2 separate regions of the Homo sapiens genome follow, and region 1 is linked to region 2. Evidence: fine-mapped expression QTL. A gene starts in region 2. The other region holds a variant in brackets. All regions are shown on one strand. Distances are from middle to middle. Region 1 has its middle 34 kb from the start of TMEM17. Region 2 holds the start of TMEM17 (transmembrane protein 17).

Region 1 (9,731 bases), 35 kb after region 2:
CCTAGCTCACTGCAACCTCCGCCTCCTGGGTTCAAGCAATTCTCCTGCCTCAGCCTCTCAAGTAGCTGGGATTACAGGTGCCTGCCACTACGCCAGGCTAATTTTTGTATTTTTAGTAGAGATGGGGTTTCACTATGTTGGCCAGGCTGGTCTCAAACTCCCGACCTCAGGTGATCTTCCCGCCTCAGCCTCCCAAAGTGCTGGGATTACAGGCGTGAGCCACTGCTCCCGGCTGTGAGAGAAGGTCCTGGGAGGGATTAAGCTGCAGTTGCTCGGCAATGGCCTCAATAACACACCGTATGTTGACTATCCCTCCTTCCCTCTCTCTCCCCAGTCCCTCACTTCTGCCCCCTAGGATCACCTCCCAAAGAACTTCCAAATAAACCACCTGCACACCATCCCTTATCTGGGGCTCAACTCTCCAGGGAGGACACAGGATAGGAAAGATAACATTCTTCTGTAACCCCAATAAATGCCAGGGCCTTGTGGGGCTCAGTCTCAGCAGGAAGTCCAATACACAGCTCAGCAAGCAATAAAGCTTTTATAAAAAGGAATTTCAGTCTTTAACATTCATAGAGATATGTCAAAAAGCATCCAACAATTTCTAAATTCCCCTTGTCCAGGCCCCAAACCATCTCACAGCTATTCCAGACCCCTTTGGATACCATTCTTGCTCTTCTTCTTTTCCATCTCTTTTAATATATGAATGCATTTCACTTCCCTAGCTTAAATACATACAGATAGTCCCTGATTTATGATGGTGCAACTTAGGATTTTTCAACTTTACAATGGGTTTATCAGGGTATCAGATGCATTTTTTACTTCAATATTTTTTACTTACAATGGGTTTATCAGGGTGTAGCTCCATCATAAGCTGAAGAGTGCCTGTATCCACATAGCCTCCCGCTCCTGTCTTTCTGCAGAAGCTGTTGTGAATCTGCATCACTGAAGAGCAGCCATCTTCTTACCTGGTGGTAGTGGAAGGCTGAGGGACTGCTGCCTCCCACCAATGCCCTCCCTGTCTGGTTTTTGGATAAGAGTCAGGCTGCAAGCTTCCAGAGCATCACAGTAGATGCTGCATAGTGCCTAGAGTGAAGCCCACAGCAAACCTGCAGGGAGCCAGCCTTTTTCTGCAACAACATACATAGAAAATGGGCATTTTTGTGCCCTATATTCAAGAAAATGGATACAACTGCCACCCCAAGAGCTGAGGGGCTCCCTATCTTATTTGACAAAGCATGACCCCCTTGCAGCACATCAGTGGGCTGACCGCCCCCAGTGGGAAGGCTGCTTGCTGGGCACGCAGGCAGTGGCCAGAGCTCTGACACCGTGGTAGGTCCTGGGAACACACTGAGCTGGCTCCCTCTCCCTCAGCTTCTAATGAACACGAGCATTTGCTTGACATTTTCCTGCACATTCTTACATTTGCCAACTGCCTCCCCGCCCCCATCCACACATTCCACAACATGGCAATTAATTGTTCTCTGCTGTTCAGCAGCATTGGTCTGCACAGCCGCAAGTGTAGTCATGTTTTGTTCCTGATTTAATCAGTGGCTATCCCTGACTGTCCCTCAAAAAACAGACAAAACCAGCCAGCTGCAGACCCAGCTGTCAGCGAGCCCGACACTGGCATTCAAGTGGCCGCAAGAGAACCCATACAGTGCCCAGAGAGAGCCCATTCTTTTCTTTTCTCCTCTTTACAATTGACAGGCTCTGAGAAAGGAAACGTGAGCTCTGGGCTTGGCAGCAGGGCAGGAGGCTCTTGTTAACAGCTTGCCTTCCTGTTTATATGGGGTCTGGCAAAACTGTTAATTTCTCTCACGGAGGTGACAAATGGGAAACCCAGAACCGCCAGGGAGCAGCAGCCTAGAAAACAGCCCAGGCGTGACTTGTTGAAGCAAGGCCAGGGGGCTGGAAATGGGTGGGCAGGGACTCTCGTAGGTTCCCGGGCCCACTGGAGAGGACAGCCGCACTCAGCGGTCCCTCTCGAAGAGGCGCTGAGCCCGGCTGCGTGGGCATGCCTCTGCCGCTGTGCCCCAAGACAGGACAGACACAGTGGAGTGCCTGTGGTGCGGCTCAGAGGCTGCTTCCCAAATTAGCATCTGTGCTAGGACCTGCCGGGTCTGTCCTCACCATCCTTGAGTGGCCTTGGTCTGGCTCAGAAGCTGAAAACACCCCAGGAAATACACCAGGGTTGGGCAGCCCCCTTCCTGCTGCTTCTCCTGGAGCTTCTCCTGCAGCATCCTAAACCCTAGGCAGTGTTTCTCCTGCTGCTTGCACATGGAAAGCACCTGGAGAACATCAGGTTTAATTGTTCTAAGATAGGACCTGGGTGCTGATCTTTTTAAAAAGCGTCCCAAGTGATTCCAATAGGCAGCCGGGGTGGTGAACTATCATCAAGGGTAGATTGCTGTTGCTGTTTTTAGTTTCATTATCAATCATTATTATTATCTGAAGTTAAATGCTGGCTTATTTCAAAAGCCTATTTGCAGGGGTGGGATAGAGGCAAGGAACGAGATGAGGAAACAGATTCCAACAGTCAGAGACCCTCGGAAGATGAATAATAGCCCCAGTTTAACTGGGACTGGGGATATGGGTTTAGGGTAGTTTTCCTGGGATGTGGAATTTTCAGAGCCAAAACTAGAAAAGTCTGTCATGCTACCAGCCCCCAGGGCACCCTGGGCTGTGTCTCCCATGGGTTCACCGGCCCTCTGATCCTCTTCAAGGGGTAAGGTCTTATTCATGTTTGTATTCCCCAGTAGCTGCCATACAGTAGGTGTTCATTATCTAGTCCTGAATTTGCTGCCTCCTGTTTAATTCAACAAAGACCCCTTAGCTGCTGCTATTTTATGTAGGAACGTTACCGTGCTTTCATGGCCTGAAGAAAGACATAGTATTATTTGTTCTGGAGACAGACGCAGCTTCAGCGTGGGTTGAAGAGCAGGTTGTGGGCTGAGCTTTGGGAGAGATTTGCAAGCCTGTGGACATGGAATGCTGTGGCTGCAAACATTTCAGGGAAATGGAGCTATTCTCACCACAGATATAGATCTCATTTAAATATCCCTCTCCACACAATTTTCCTATCAAAGCAACTGGACTGCAAAACTGAACTATTTTGGAAGTTTTGTCTCTTATAAAAGGAAAATCAGGATTCTCTCTCCTTTTTTGCTTCAGTTTTATTCAAAACAAGTAAAATAAGGGTTTGTGGAGAACGCAGCAGCTCCCTTCTTAGGCTCTTTGAGGACTCCCAAAGCCTGACAAGCAGGCCCTCCTGAAGCTCACAGTGAAGGCCTCTCCACCCCACCACTCTGGCCCCTCCCCATCCTCAGTGTGGCCTCCCTGGGTCCCTGCATGGATGGTCCTGTGGCTGTGCAGAGTCCTTCTCGTCTCTGTTCAGGAGACTCACACCCAGCCCCTCTTACTTCCACTCTTTCTGCAATGATCAGTTCAAGCTTGGGATCCTCCAAGAAGACCTACTTCCTCCTTTCTCTTCTGAAAGTTTCCAAAGCAAGCAGAGTCTCTGCCACATTGTCCAGCATCCCTCTGTGATCCCTTGTGGAAATTACCAGGTCATTAGTTCCACCAACATGTCCTTTGCTGATACAGTCTCTGCCTACCAGCCCCAGTCCTGGTATTCCTGAGGCTGTCTGAAAATCTGCATGGCTGTGGTCTGCCCACCTGCTCACCATGATGTGTAAACAGTAGGAAAGTGTGTAGATGAGATATTTCATCAGCAAGAAGCCTGGGGAAGCTGCAATCCTCTGCTGCTTCCCTCACTCCCAGCAGCTGAAGCAGGGAGTGGGGAGGAGAGGGGTAAAGCTGGTTCTGCAGCCAAGAGGCCTTGGGTGGGAGTTCTTTGATTTGGCTACTTTCCCAGGAAAGGACATCTCTGCATCCCTCCAGAACTTCCAAGGGGCCATCTCTGCTTCAGGCTACCATCTCTGCTGCAGTCTCTACTATGTTCTCACCTCCTAAGTCCTGGCCAGATCCTCAGCTTGGCCCACAGGGAGCAGCTGAGCCTGGGATCAGGAACCTTACTCTGGATTCTGGGTTTTGGCGGTGTGGTTGGGTCCTCCCAGTACCTTAGTTTTCTTATCCAGAAATAGGGGTTAATAATAGTACCTACTTCACTGGTATTCAGAGGATCAATTGACCTACTTCTGTTAAAGCAATTAGAACAGTGCCTGATGCATAATAAATGTTGGCTATTATTTAACATTCTCTTAATGGAGGAGAGGGAGGGGATAGTAAATCATCTCTAGGTGAGAAGCCACCTGATTTTTGTGATTCCTGCATCCTGAAGTTTTCCCATCTCTGAGTTTGGTTCTTATTGCTAGAGGCAGTTCTGGCCTCCTGAAGAATCTCTCAGCCCAGACACTCCTGAGTTTCTTTCTGTGTGTGTTGTGTCTCCAAAATAGGCCAGCCACGGCTGAGCTCTAAGAAAGTTGCCTTTAATTGCCACCTTGACACAGTCTACTTCTAATTGTTTTGAATGTGTTGATCTTGATATCTTAAACCTCCATGTGCTTCCTGAGGCAAGCAATTCTGTCTTGTGCATTTTCTTTATCTCCCAACTATGCCTAACATAGTTCTAGGCATTGGTTGAGAGACACATTAAAACCTGGGAGAACCCAAAAGCAATCTACCACCCCATTGCCCAGTGTCCATGAGACCAGAAATAATACTGAGGAGA[T/G]CCCCTTGACCTTGAGCATCTGAGTCTGGATCAGGAAGGTTGGGAAATACATCTGTTTTGGATTTTGGGTAGTTGGGAGAGTGGAATGACAGCCAGCAAAACTTCCATCCCCAGCAGACTAGCCTCTGTCCACTCCCTAAGGTTTGGAGTGAGCCCAAATAGCTTCATTTGGGAGACAGACAGGGGAGACGCCAGCCAGAGCCAATAAATAAATATCCTTCTCTCCCTCGATTTTACTTCCTCAGTGGTGCATGGAAAGCCTAGAGTCTGCAGTAATCAAATAGACATGGACCATGAAGGGCTTCTCATTCCAGGCTGCAGGGAAAGCCCCAAGACTCTGCTATGGTTCTTCATGCCCACCCTTCTTTTGCTGGAAAGGGAGCTGTTTGTGACATTTCTTGTGTCCCTCTCACATTTCAGAGCTTTTGTTGGAAAATACTTTTAGATTAGCATTAAGTCTGTGTTATCCTTTAAAAGACTGGATGAGTAATAAATGAGCTAACCTATCCTATTTTCCAAAAAGAACTCGAAATTCCTCCCACTTCCCTGAACAAAATATCTGTATTCCCACCCACACTCTCAGCAACCTGCTGCCGAGGCTGAAACCCCGCCAAGGTTGGCTTCAGCACTACTGCTCCTGGGGCTTTGGGCTGCTCCCCACTCCAGCCAGGGTCCTTGACTCCGCATCTGAGTTCTTGCTCTTCCAATATAGATAAAGGCACGTTAATGGGGCCAAGAGTCCCTCTGCCAGATGGGCTGAAACACCATAGACGACTATAGTCAGCAGCCCGTGGAGAAGAGTTCAGACATTAAATGCTTTGCTGTGCAGAAGTTGTCAACAAACAGCAAGGCACACCAGCCCACAGCCATTATCCATGCCATGTTTCTACCCTGGCTTCCAGCCTCAGCCTTGCCCCCTGCCCAAAAGGCCCTCCCTTCTCCTAGGCACCGGACAAATTCTAATCTTTCAAGATTCAGACCAAGCTCCTCCCCCTCCCCAGCACTCCTTCAGGATAGGTGCATTTATTGAGCACCTGCTGAATTCCAGGAGTGGACTAGGGATTGAGACACAAAGATTAAACTCCCCAGCCCTACCTGCAAGGAATTCCCAATCTAGGAAGCAATCTCTGACCATTTTAGCCCACAAGTGCTACCGTTCTTTGAACTCCTTTGAACAAGAAGTTTGAAGTACAGTGTAGATCTCACAGAGTCATCAGTCTTAGAAACAGAAGGAAGCTCAAAAAATTCACCTGATTGGTCCAGCCTTGGCTTGGCTATTGTTAATATTATCCCCAACTTACAGACGAGTTAATGGAGCCTCTGAGAGGTTAAGAGCATTGCCCAGAGTCACAGAGTGAGCTAGTGGCCTTTATGTACTCTAACTGCTCTCTGTGTTGGTCTTACTTCCCCAATTGGTTCTAAGCTTCCCAAGACGGGCCAGGACATTTTAGCTTCCCTACCTACAGCCTTTCTGCCAACCCTCCACACGCATTAAGTGCCTAATAAAGACTAGTGACTTGCTGATTGCTCGTGGGCCTCTCTCAGCTCCTCAGGTCACGGGGCCCAAGGGCACTACCTGGAACCCGCAGTCCAGACCCTGCATCTGGAGAGAGGCTGAGCTTCCTCTCCATTGCTCACATTCCCTTGGTGTGGCCTCTTTTTGAGAAGCAGCAGCCTGTAGCCCCCAGGAGAGGACCTACATCTCACTGTTTGCAAACAGGCTTTGCTTGCTCCAAAGGCTCTGTTCTCAAGACAGGCTCAAGTAAGCAGCCCTTGGAACTGGAGTGGTTAAGTTAAATAAGGGTGTTGGTTGCAGTGTTCCTCCTGAGAGAAAATGAAGTTGACCTGATCTCTTTCCCATGAGCCATTTGGAGAACAGGAGATAATAAAGACAGCTGAATTTTCCCCTGGACCGTTCTTTGGGAGCTCTTTGTGAGGGGCTGTGGTCTTGCTGGGAGAATGCAAGAAGGTGAAGAGAAGCTGGTGGGATTGTGCAGGCTGCTTCAAGGTGGACCCCACCCCCAGTGGTGGGCCAGCCACAGTGAGTGACTGAGGACCCTGTGTGCCTGGGCCTCTGGCCAAGGAGGTGAGGGCTGGTTGTCATCCAGCTGAAGGCAGCTGCACTTGTGAAAATGTTCATCTATCGACACTGCACTCACCTGAAATACTACAGGCTGTGGCATGAGCCCAAATCTGCTCATGAATGTTTATCCCTCTGAGGGCAGCCACACCAGGCAGGGGAATTGAGGAAGCAGGAATTGAGAACTCTGCATGGGAACATGTAGATTTCGGGATTCAGATCAGAACCTTACAGTAGATTTGTCTTTGAGTGCAATGTCCCATTTAACTCTCTCCAGAGCCAGCCCCAGGATCCTGTGATTTGGAAGAGGAACTTTAGGACCTTGGAATTATACCCTAGGGGTGGAGAGATTGAGAGAGAAGTGCTCATAATACAGAGGAAAGGTGCCCCCAGCCAAGGATTAATCAGTGTAGTGGAGGAAGCAGACTAATCAAGATGTAATTATGCCAAAGGGAAACAAACCAACTAATGGGTGTCTTCTTAGAGCTCCAAGACCTGAAGGAAGGAGCAGCTTGCTGGCTCAGGGGTGAACTTTTCTTTAGGGGCCAGGAAAATGAGAGGACATGCTGGACATGTGGATCAAGGCCCGGGGAACATGGGGATACAAAGGCAGAGGCCCTGGGACTGGAGTGGGGATGGACTCTCTCAGGGACTGCGGAAAGGAAAGAGATCAGACAACCTGAGACAAACTTGCAGCCAGCCAGCAGGACCCAGGCTGCCCAGGCAGCCAATGGCCAGGAGACAGCCTGCTTCTAGAGCACCAGACACTGCGTCTTCTCAAAGACTGCAAAGTGTCAGCCAACAGAAAAGCCACCTGGGCCTCCTTGCACACTTTCCTATGCTCAGGAGCCAAGAATGTGCCTCCTTCTGTCCTTCTATCTTCCTGACCTCAGCAACTATACTCAGAAGAACAGCCAGATAGTCTTCAAACTGCTGTTTGCCTCCCAACACCTGGCAACAGGCAACAGGCAGACTGATGAACCAACAACTGTAAATGTTTGTTTTCTTTAAATAAAATTCCTTGGAAAGAGCTCTGAAAGTGAGGAGAAGAAATCCTAATTTGGCAACACCATTGAATGTTTGCATTTTCTAGGGCAATTCAATCTCTGGATTTTTAATTAAAGAAAAAAGAAAAGAATTAGCTGAAAAGATCTTGGCAAGAAGCTAAATGAGCCCATGCAGTTTGAAAATGAAGGTAAAAAGTCTCAGCAAAGTTTGTACTTCCCCAAGATCACACATGTGACGGGGTCAGGTGACCTCCCAGCCTTGCATAACATGTCCCATCCCACCCTGATCCCATCCTGGGTCCTCTTTGAGGGAAGAGGTTAGCAATCTCCACAAGCCCAACCAGTTCTATTTGGCCTGAACCTGAGGTTGGAATATGCCACTAGCCAATTTAGGTATGTACCTTCTTCTGTACTAAGTGTTGCCTGTATAGTGTACACATTTATGCTAACTAAAAATTAAATGTGTACCTGAAATATCATCAAATGCATTTGTACATTTCCTGGAACAGTAAAGGTATTGTTTGGCTTGGCCATCTGGGGATGCAATGACAGAGGGTAAAAGAGGTGGGTGGCTGCCATTGCTGGGCCTGACATGACATAGACCCTAATTGACCCCATGGTCTGCATTCAGAAATGGGGTATGTGGGCTTCTAGGTTACCTTTGGTTCTTGTTCCAAGGACAACACTTGGCTCTGTCAAACTCTGCTAGCTCTAGCTACCATGCCTCTAGCTAGTCCCCTCCCACCTCTGAGCCATCCCCCAGTTCTCTGACAGCCACACTTGATGGGCTTCAGCCCCCTGAATCGGCCTTGCTGGCAAACACAAATACAAGCATCCTTGGTTTCTTGCACATATATGGGACTGTCTGCTTATCAGCTGAACCATAAGGGTCTTGCAGTCTGGGACTTTACTCTTTGGTTCTCCCCTGTGTCTCCAAGTTCTCTCTATGGTGAACACTCAGTCCACTGTGACAACCCTCTCCCCCAACACCCACATGCACCCACATACACACAGTTCTATCTAGCAATCTAGAGGTTAAACGTAGATGTGACAAAAACATCAACAGCTCAAGTCAGGACCCCAACTGTAATTCCACTGGAAGTCACTGATATTTTAAGGGGCCAAAGATGACTGTCCCTTGGACTTCAGGCTAAATGTCAAACGAAGATGTGGGGTCCCAATCTTCTAATTTTTAGGGTCTTTTCCATGCTTTGAAAACCTGACAGGGTGTAGGCTAGTCCAGGGATGTGCTGGCATACCCTGCCCCCAGCTCTCCTGAGGCTAGAGAACACACGGCCTTCTCTCTTTGCTCAGCCCTGGGCCAAACCGCAGCCTCTTTAAGAGCCAGCCAGTAAGGCTGCTGGCTGCCTCTGTAGAGTCACGTGGAAGAGCACCAGGACAGGGCTCACCCAGCAGGGGTGAAGTGGAAAGGGGCTTTCCTAGAGGAGGGAAAGGGAATCACTCCAGCCCCCTGCACATTTGCCAAAGCCACATCAAACTCTGGGGCTACTGTTATACCACTAACAACTCCTCAACCCCAAGCCTTCCTAACCAGACCCAGCAGAGGGCATGCTGAGTACCCCGAGGATTTGCTTCCTCTGAAAGACGTCCTGAGTCCTGAGTCAACAAACACTTGGTTTCACAATTCGCATCTGTTTTCTGATTAGAAAAAAAAAAAAAAAAAAGGAGAGATGGCATGCCCACATGCTCCTGCAGGGAAGCTCACCCACCACCCCAGGCCCTGCCACCTGGCCTTTGCAGACTGTGTGAACCTCTGAGACTACTTGGCCTCCATGTCTCTGGAGCTTAGAGGAGCTCCTTAGGCCAGAAACCCTGACTTTCCCAGCCCTGAATCATCACAGCTCCACCTGGCCCTGCAGCCAGAAAACAGAGCCGCTGACTTTCAACCAAAGGGACACGCAGTTTGGGAGGATTCAAACAGGGTCATTAC
Region 2 (9,731 bases):
ACAACGTATCAATATTTACTGTGGGGAAAGCAATATTTTATTACAGTCAATAACAGGTCAATTTTCTTCCAGAAAGGGGAACATAATTTATACTTTACACAGTGTAATATATAAAATATTTTTAGTTTAGTAAGACATCACTACTAAAAATGGAACATGTTACTTATTCCGTAAAATGACCACCTGCTTCTAATCAGTATCATAATTCACTTGACAGATCTGAGGTTTCCTTAAGCGGGTTTTTGCTTTACTGATTTTCTTCCCTCGGCTTGACGTTCCCATCTCCCACATGGTTGACGCATGGAGCAGCTGCTTCATATAGCAGGTGAGCAGTGTGGTAGACCAACACAAAGAAATGCCACCGAACCAAAAAACTATTATATAAACAGTATTTTAAAGGGGAAAGAATTTTCTAATAAAAATTCTCAATGGAGATGTCTCTGAAGACAAAATATTAAAGTCAGCCTTGAAATATCACTTAATATAGTATAAAAATTCCTTTCATGAGATTTTGCTTTCTGTATAATTCACAGCCTGATTCTTTCTTATAAACCTTTGAGAAGTGCTGTGAATAGAATATATTGTACCAGGGACTTGTATCAAAAAATCTTTGCTTATCCATTAACAATTTGAGGATTCTAAGATTACATTTCAGGTAATTTAGAGTAAGATTTTTTTAATGTGGATGCCGATGTGGAATCATATCATCATCATAATTATATATTATACCCAAATATATAATTTATCTTTTAAATTTATCTAGATTCTGAGAAATGTCTCTCAGTTCATTTTAAAGCAATAAACTGAATGACATACTTACTTAAAAATATTTCTAAACTCTTTATTAGTATCAAGTGGAAAGAATTTTTTTTTATGCCAAGGAGTAATTTAAATAACTGAGGTCAGGTGTGGTGGCTCATGCCTGTAATCCTGGCACTTTGGGAGGCCAAAGTGGGAGGATCATTTGAGCCCAGGAGTTGGAGACCAGCCTAGGCAACATAGGGAGACCTTGTCACTACAAAATAAAAAAAAGTTAGCTGGGTGCAGTGGTATACCCCGGTAGTCCCAGCTATTAGAGAGACTGAAGTGGATGGATCACTTGAGCCCAGGAGATTGAGGCTACAGTGAGCTATGACTGCATCACTACACTCCAGCCTGGGCAGCAGAGTGAGACCCTATCTCAATAAATAAATAACTCCCCAAATCAGTTTCTTGTCATATAAGGTAATACATTATTACCAGACAACATGGTCCCTTATCAAAGGGAAGCTAATCATTGCATCAGTCTCAAAATGTTTGTGAAAACAAATAAGCAAACAATAAATGTAATTAAACCCCAAGAAATACATTAAACAACTATTGCAGAAACAGCTATTACTCTGAACATCAACACTGGTATAAGAACTAAGCAGTTTAAACTTTATGGGACTATTCATTAACCTAAAATGATTCCCGTGATTTTAAGTACAGAGATTCCGTACTTCTTTTTTTTTTTCTTGAGACGGAGTCTCACTCTGTCGCCCAGGCTGGAGTACAGTGGCACGATCTCAGCTCACTGCAACCTCTGTCTCCCAGGTTCAAGCAATTCTCCTGCCTCAGCCTCCCGAGTAGCTGGGACTGCAGGGGCCCGCCACCACACCCAGCTAATTTTTGTATTTTTAGTATACACGGGGTTTCACCATATTGGGCAGGTTAGTTTCGGACTCCTGACCTTGTGATCAGCCCGCCTTGGCCTCCCAAAGTGTTGGGATTACAGGTGTGAGCCACCGTGCCTGGCCCATACTTCTTTCTTTAGATCCTAAGTAAGTAGTAGGTCTAGAAGATGGGAAACCCAAATCATACAATTCTTCATTTTTCATGAATGTGGATGCCCACCTGTATAGGCAATCACATTAGTGAAACACTGAAGGATCTCCTTTAGTATTTCTAATGTAATTGCCTATAAATATTGGGAGTATCAACTAATAAGATAACATTTGGAAAGTTTTTTTGAGCCCCTTGGACCATTTATGATACATCAATAATGGCAGGACTCATTCCAAACCACATTTTTTTTCCTCTCAAATTATCTTCTCTAATGTTTTTGCATCATCATTGCCTCTTCCTCTCAATTTATTTTTAACAAGATTTTTTTCTAACTAGAAAATGTACGCTCATATAGGAAATTTGAATAATAAAATTAGAAGGAAAAATACCCATAATTCTATCACTTTTTTTCCTCCAGGATTTTGATAACATAATTACAATCTGAAGAAGGTATCTTGCATCTTTTTTCAATGCCAGGGGAAAATATCTTTAAAATAATTCACTTAGGTTTTTGATAAGAATTCACATAGGTTTTTGGTTAACATAATGGAGTGCTTTAATGCTTAACTGCCTCCACTGTCTTTATTAGGAAAGCAACAGAGGTATTACCTAGCAGGTCCAGTTGAATTTACAAAATTAAATACCAGCATTATTTGACTCCACTCTAGGTGTTGTTTCTTCATAAACTTCATTTTAATTGATGTGTAAATGGTAGCTATCATGTATAGAGAGCCTTAATGATATAATATCACATCAACCACAACAGTAAGATATCATTATTTTTACTTTACAAAACGAGTATCTGAAATCAGTCACACAGCTGTTAAGTGGTACATCGAGAATTTTAGGGTATTTGAACCCTGCCCTCTCAGCTTCCAAGGACATTCTTTCTACTGCAGCCCAACACCTTGCCATAAATATCGTAATCTGCTTAATGAGGCCCTGTGGTTGGGCACTTCAAATGCCCATTCCCCTCTTTTCTAAACAATTATCAATAATGTTGGAGAAGCATTTGGTGTATAAAACTTTGTTTCTATGATTATTTTCCTTTAATAGAGCACGCCTTAAGATTTTATCGTGTTAAAGGAGGCAGGAACGTTTTAAAGGCTATTTCTATACATTGCCGATTACTTGTCTCAATGCGGTTGGCCAAATTATAATTCAACAGCTGAGCCTGAGGCCTCCTGCTTCACTGTTCCGTTTATAAAAAATCTCGGTTCATTTGATAAATGAAAAGTGATTCTCTGTTGCTAAGGTTTTTTAAATTGTTATGATTCACTATGTTTTAATACACCAATTCACCATTTTACAAAGTGAACCTTTTAAAGGGCTAGCTAAGTCCTTGAACTAGAAGGGGAAGACAAGAGAGTGGTCATTAGGCTTTTTCTTCCTTTTACTCACTCAACAGTCATCCAGCTCCTACTCATGGCCAGGTACCACACTGTGCTAGTGTTGGGGATATAAAGATGAAAGTCCATTCTTGACCTCTAAGAGCTTGAGGACTAGCAAGAGACACAGACACATAAACAGACAATTTTAGTATAGAGTGACCAGCACTGTGACCAAAGAAACAAGAGGAAGATGCTTTGGGAAACACAGAAGAGAGCACCTAAGCTATTTCAGGAAGGTCCTAGAAGCCTTTTTGGAGATTCTCAGGTCTGAACTCCATCTTGAAATGAAGCAGAAGTTAACCAGCTTTTCCCTGACATCCTCAACCCGAATTAATTGCTTCTTTAATAATTAAAAGACGTGGTCCTTTAATAGAGCACGTCTAATAACAGTGTTTGCACTTACTTGTTTCCATGTCTCTCTTTCACTGAGCTGTGCTTCTTGATGAGGAGGGACCATATCCCTAATTAGCCTAGCACGATATCCAAATAAGCAGTAGGAATGCAATAAACGTTTGTGTAATTATTTTAAAATTCTAGTCATGAACTTATTTCCACCCATATCTTCTTCTTGCATTTATATAAATGTGTAATTTTCCTTTTGATTGTAAAAATAATACTTTTACCACACACCCATCAGAAGGGCTAAAAGGAAAGGATAAGAAATAACAAGTGTTGGTGAAGTATATGGAGTAATGGAAATATTCACACATTGCTGGAGGCAGCAGAAATTGGTTTGATCACTTTGGAAAACTGTAGGCAGCCTCTACTAAAGCTGGGTCTTTCGTATCCTATGACACGGCAATTCCACTCTCGATATACACTCAACAAAAATGCATGCATATGTTCACCAAGAGGCATCTTTTCCCCAAAGCAGCACTATACACAACAGCTCCAAACTAGAAAATACAGACACTCATCAACAGTAGAATGAGTAAGCTTATTGTGGTATGATCACAAAGAGCAAGGCAAAAGAATCTACACTCAATGACATGAAGGAATTTCATGAAAGTAATGTTGAAGACAAAGCCAGTTTTTTAAAAAAGTACTTACAGTATGATTGCTTTTATATAAATATGCAAAACAGAAGCAAGATGACAAAGGGAGTGTCATCATCTAGAAAGTGGTGCGATAAGATGCACAGCTAGTGCTGCCCTGTGACTCTAACTCCTTCAAAAGTCCGCCTGTGGCAAACGCGGCTACCCTCCCAAGCCAAGATAAAGTATAATTGGAGTGCCGAGGCTAAAAAATATACCAGTGGGACTGGTCGAATGAGGCACTTAAAAATTGTGTACAGCAGGTTAAGGCATGGATTTTTTAAAGGAATGCCACCTAAACCCAAGAGGACAGCTGCTGCAGCATCCAGTTCATCTTAAGAATTTCAGGCCAGGTACGGTGGCTCACACCTGTAATCCCAGCACTTTGGGAGGCCAAGGCGGGTGGATCACTTGAGGTCAGGAGTTCGAGACCAGCCTGGCCAACATGGCGAAACCCTGTCTCTACTAAAAATACAATAATTAGCCGAGTGTGGTGGCGGGCACCTGTAATCCCAGCCACTCGGTAGGCTGAGGCAGGAGAATCACTTGAACCCAGGAGGCGGAGGTTGCAGTGAGCCGAGATTGTGCCATTGCACTCCAGCCTGGGTGACAGAGCAAGATTCTGTCTAAAAAAAAAAAAAAAAAAAAAAATTTTAGATTAGTCACACAATAAATGTTCTGATTTAAAAAAAAAAAGGCAAAACTCTCCTTTGCTGTTAGAATTCAGGAAAGGTCAGTTATGAGTGAGGAGTGGGTTTAGTGACTGAAAGGAAATAGGAAGGGGGAGTTTCTGGGAATATTGTAAAGTTTCTTGAACAGGGTGCTGATTACACATACAGATTTCAGTCTATGTATATATATTACACTTATTTCTTAAGTAATATATATTACTTACAAAAGGTGTACAATTTTTCTGTATGTGTATTACACTTAGTTTTTTTTAAGTAATATATCTTGAGAGAAAGCTAGAAAATAAGACGTTTAAAAATTTTTGAATCACCTACAATCCCACTATCCAGTGAAAACGACTGTTAACATTTTGGACTTTTTTCCAGTTCTTTTTTTCAAGCCAGTGTGCACACGCTCTCTCCTCCCCTCCACTCATACACATAAATTTTGCTAAATTAGGTTCATTCTCATTTAGTTTTATTTCTGCTGTATTTTTACATAAAGTTAAACTATACCATTCAATATCCTTTGCAAGCATTTTATAAGCAGCTGAAACATACTCCATTGAATGTATGTGCTCCAGTACATTTAATCAGTTGCCCATTGCTGTTTTCTTATTAAAAAATAATCAGTCACATGATGTCTCTCTCTCTCACACACACCCCTACACCTCTAGACATTCTTTAAGCTCTGCATTCGTTCTCTATTTCTCTCCAGAAAGGTTGTACCGATTTACAGTTCCACTGGCAAATGTGAGGGCTCCTTGTATCGCAGTCCAACCCCAGCTCATTTCTTAGTATAGGTTTGTTTTTAGGATGGTCGAGCTCAAAGCAGAACTAAGGGATCTGCCGTTTTGTACACGGCCGAGGCGCGCGGCTCCCTGGGCCTGGAACGCGCTCTGAGCGCGCCGGTCCCTTCCAGGTTGCGCGGGCTCCGGACGAGACCCAGCCCAGCCGGGCAGCCCCGCGCGCTCCCGGGTCCCGCCGGCCTCGCGCCGCCCGGTTGCCGTGGGAACCACGGAGCCTCGGAGCGCCCGCAGACTAGCCCGTGTCTGAGGGGGTGAGGGATACTGAGGCCCAGGCATGGAGCTGCCGGATCCGGTGCGCCAGCGGCTGGGAAACTTCAGCCGGGCCGTGTTCAGTGATTCCAATCGGACCGGTCCAGAGTCCAATGAGGGTCCGGGTGAGTGACCGAGGCCCGGTGCAGGGGGTGTGGCCTGCCGAGGGCTTGGCGTGGATTTTGGAGCGTCCAGAATTTGCCCGTACCTAAAATGGCGATGTCGCCTTCAGCCAGTTCTCCGCAGTGCGGGAGAGCGCCTTGGAGGAGGGGCCGGGCCGGACAGGGAGCTGAGGCGCTGGCGGCCTCCCGCCCCCGGCCGGGCCTGGTCTCCGCGTGGTGCTCCCTGGCCAGCTTGTTGCAAGCGCGGCAGCTGACGTGGGGCCGATCTCTGTGCCGCGCAAGGCCCATCATTGTCCCGGAGAAACCCCAAAAATAAAAAGATAAAAGCCGCCCTTGCTGCACAGGCTGGTCCCCCGCGCGCCGCGAGAGCGAAGGCCCAAGTTGTTTTGCCTCTGCGGCGCCCGCCCCGGCTTTTCTGTCCAGGATGACGAGGAATAGCCCAAGCAATCCCACCTCCCCCGTCCCCACCCCCACCCCAGGGAACAAATTTGCCTTTTCCCTTTTCCTAGCAGAACAAGTATGTTCCTAAGCAAGGCCATTTTCTCGTAGAAGACATTAAAAAAAAAAGTTAATGAGTCCTTTCAAACCACCATCCACTCCCACTGGCATGTGCCATACTAGCCGGGCGTTCAACAAAACTCACCCCTTCCCTGCCTTCTCCTCCTCCCCTATATGTAACTCTTATCATAAGGTAACAAAATACCATGATGCTTCTGCGTCCTTTAACTTGATGTCAAGTGATAACACAGTTTCCTCCAGAACAGTTTCCTCCTCCTACATCATGATGGTAGACAACACACTGTCAACCAAACCCATGTGGTTTTCATCATTCAACTCTGCTGGGAAATATCAATCTTTTCCTCTGCTTGGTTTTAGAGAATTTTTAAAAGGGACAGAGAAAAGTAAAGGCAGTTCCCAAAGCTGCATTTTGTCACCTTGATCACTTGCCTATTTCCCAAATGTAGGCCTTTATGATTTAGGATGTACAGAGAAAAATGTGAAAAAAATAGGTTTTCACGTTTCTGGTTCCAAGGATGAGGCTTAATGAGCACTAACGTCTGATAATACAAGGTAAAAAGACGTTTTCTGAAAAGGACCAGATAGTAAATATTTTAGACTTTGTAGGCCATATGGTCTCCACGGCAGCCATTGACAATAGTTATTGAATAGGCAGGGCTGTGTTCCAATAAAACTTTATGGACACTGAAATTTGTATTTCATATGGATTTCACGTGTGGAAAAAATATTACTTTTTTAACCATTTAAACGTGAAAAAACATTTTTAGCTCATTGACTGTACAAAAACAGGCAGCTGGCCAGTTGTTTACCTATCCCTGATTTATATTGTATGTTTTAATTTAAATTCCATTTACAGAACTCAACTTGAACTTTTGCAAAATTTAGTAAGTTTATGTCTTACGCTTTTAAGGTTCATTTACATATTAATTTGATTTTCATTTCCATGATTATAAGTTTGATCTGCTGAAATATGGACATAGCATAACCTTTAAGATGTTAACACACAATACTTCTAACATGAAAACCATTCTTTGCAAAATTTGACTACAGTTTCTTCTCAAAGGTACTGAAATGTTCAGCTTGCCCAATTTATTATTCTTTCCCAAATTTTCTTCTTTGTGGATTGGAAGTAGGTTTGATTATTTGTACTGTAATAACAAGTTTATGTCATTACCATGTCCGCAGCTTTGTACTGTTGCTATCGAAAAGATCCTAGGCTGGTGAGTTGTCTTCAGATTTAACAGATTTTAAGAATTCATTCCTTTATCAGTGGTAATTTAATAAACAGTTGCAAGCAAAAGTAGATCATAATAATCAGGCATATTCTTGGAGCTAAAAGAAACTATTTTGCTGTGAGAGACCATGACTATTTCTTATATTTTAAAATAATTAAGTGACAGATAAAAACACTCAGCTATGGAGAAAAGGAGAAAATAATGTTTTTAAGACATTTATTTTAGAGCCTTTAAAATCTTACGTGTACAGCAACTGATTTCAATATATGTGTCTGCTCTTAAGAATTTAGTCAAATTTAGGATGTATTTTGTAGGGCTCAATTTTAAAAATCAAATTCTTAATCTAGGACCCTGCTCTCTTACATAAAAGCAGAAAGTGTTATGGAATCAACCTTAGGTAAATGGAACTCATGTATCACAAATGGCTATGCTAGTAATGTCCTTATGACAGTATACTTTCATTAATTCATTCTTATGTGTATTTGATATTCACTGCGTGGAAAGCAAGATGCTAGATTCTATGAGGGTCTCAAATTAGGGTAGGACATGGTGTGTGCTTGCAATGAGCCTGTAGATAAGTAGAAGAGAAGAAGGAAAGAGGACTAATATTTGTTGAGTGCCTACTAAGTGTGCCAGGCACAGTGCTAGGATGAAATAATTTATATTGGCTCTAATTCTCACAAACAGCCTGTGAGGAAGTTTTAATTTCACTATTTTACAGATGAAGAAATAGAAGCTCAAAGAGTTTAAATAATTCATGTCAAGTCTGACATCCAGGGTCACAGAGGTTTGGGGAGCTCGGATTTGCTTGAACTCTGAAGCCCATGATCTGTTCAGTACACCAGACTGTTTTTTGGGGAGGGGAGTGTGGTTCTTTGCTAGCACTTCTTATTGACAGTTTAGAGTGGTAAGTACCTAAAGGGGAAAGGTATTTCTGCTGAGGTGGGGGAACTGATGAAGGAAGTATTGATGGAAAAGATGACACTGAATTGGACTTTAAAGAATGGCTAAGATTAGGGTATGCTGAAAAGAGAGATGTGTCTAATTATAACCTTGGTAATCCGTTTTTGTATAAGATTAGTTTATCTGTGGGAGATTCATTTTTATTTATTTTATGCATTAATTTTATATGCTATTTACATAGAATTCTACAAAAGAGGCAATGATAATTATCTGTTGAATAGGATTTATGTTGATATTCTACATTAAATCTATACCAGTAGTATATGCCAAAAAGTCAGAAGACTGTAATGGCAAAATGGTAAAATAATTGAAAAATATGAAACGTACCCCCAAATAGCCAATATTTGACCTAACTGGTATTAGGATGAATATTCCTTTTACTGTCAATGATTATAAATAGGCATAAAATTTGGTGTTTTACTGAGCCAATATTATAGTTATTAATTCTAGGGAATAGGATATATATATATAGGGCATAAACCCAAGATTCATCATTTGTTCCTTTTCTGTTCCTTCTGTAGAAAATGAAATGGTCTCCAGTTTGGCACTGCAGATGTCACTTTATTTTAATACCTACTATTTCCCACTGTGGTGGGTGAGCAGCATTATGATGCTTCACATGAAGGTAAATCTAAGCTTTAATACTTTTGCTGCCCTGACGTTGTTAGAGTGTCAATAAAATTCAAGTTCTTAATAATTTTTTCTATCTTAAATCAATGTTACTATACATGAGATTTTACAAACATGTTTTGGCTTTTCTTTTAGTATTCAATCTTACCTGACTACTACAAATTCATTGTGATCACTGTTATCATCCTAATAACCTTAATTGAAGCCATCCGGTTGTATCTGGGCTACGTGGGTAACCTACAGGAGAAGGTAAGCTCTTTTTTCCTTTCTCTCAGTGATAGATATAAATGAAATCAGTTTTCATA

The links. PIP is the estimated chance that this variant, and not a neighbour inherited with it, causes the effect.
Region 1: its variant is fine-mapped to the expression of TMEM17 in thyroid (GTEx, PIP above 0.99).

Annotation. Positions count from the first base shown.
Region 1 is chr2:62,467,618-62,477,348 of GRCh38, reverse strand. It overlaps a transcript of TMEM17 not described here. Among named protein-coding and RNA genes, the nearest start is that of TMEM17, 34 kb to the left of the region's middle. RefSeq lists an enhancer at 1,001-1,733. The variant T/G (reference allele first, on the strand shown) is at 4,694.
Region 2 is chr2:62,502,381-62,512,111 of GRCh38, reverse strand. It overlaps TMEM17 (transmembrane protein 17), which reads left to right and starts at 5,917. Exons shown (of 4, transcript NM_198276.3): 1 at 5,917-6,082; 2 at 9,318-9,421; 3 at 9,562-9,675. The coding sequence starts at 5,983. It also overlaps the pseudogene RPL37P13. RefSeq lists silencers at 5,737-6,006, 6,217-6,386, 6,724-7,018.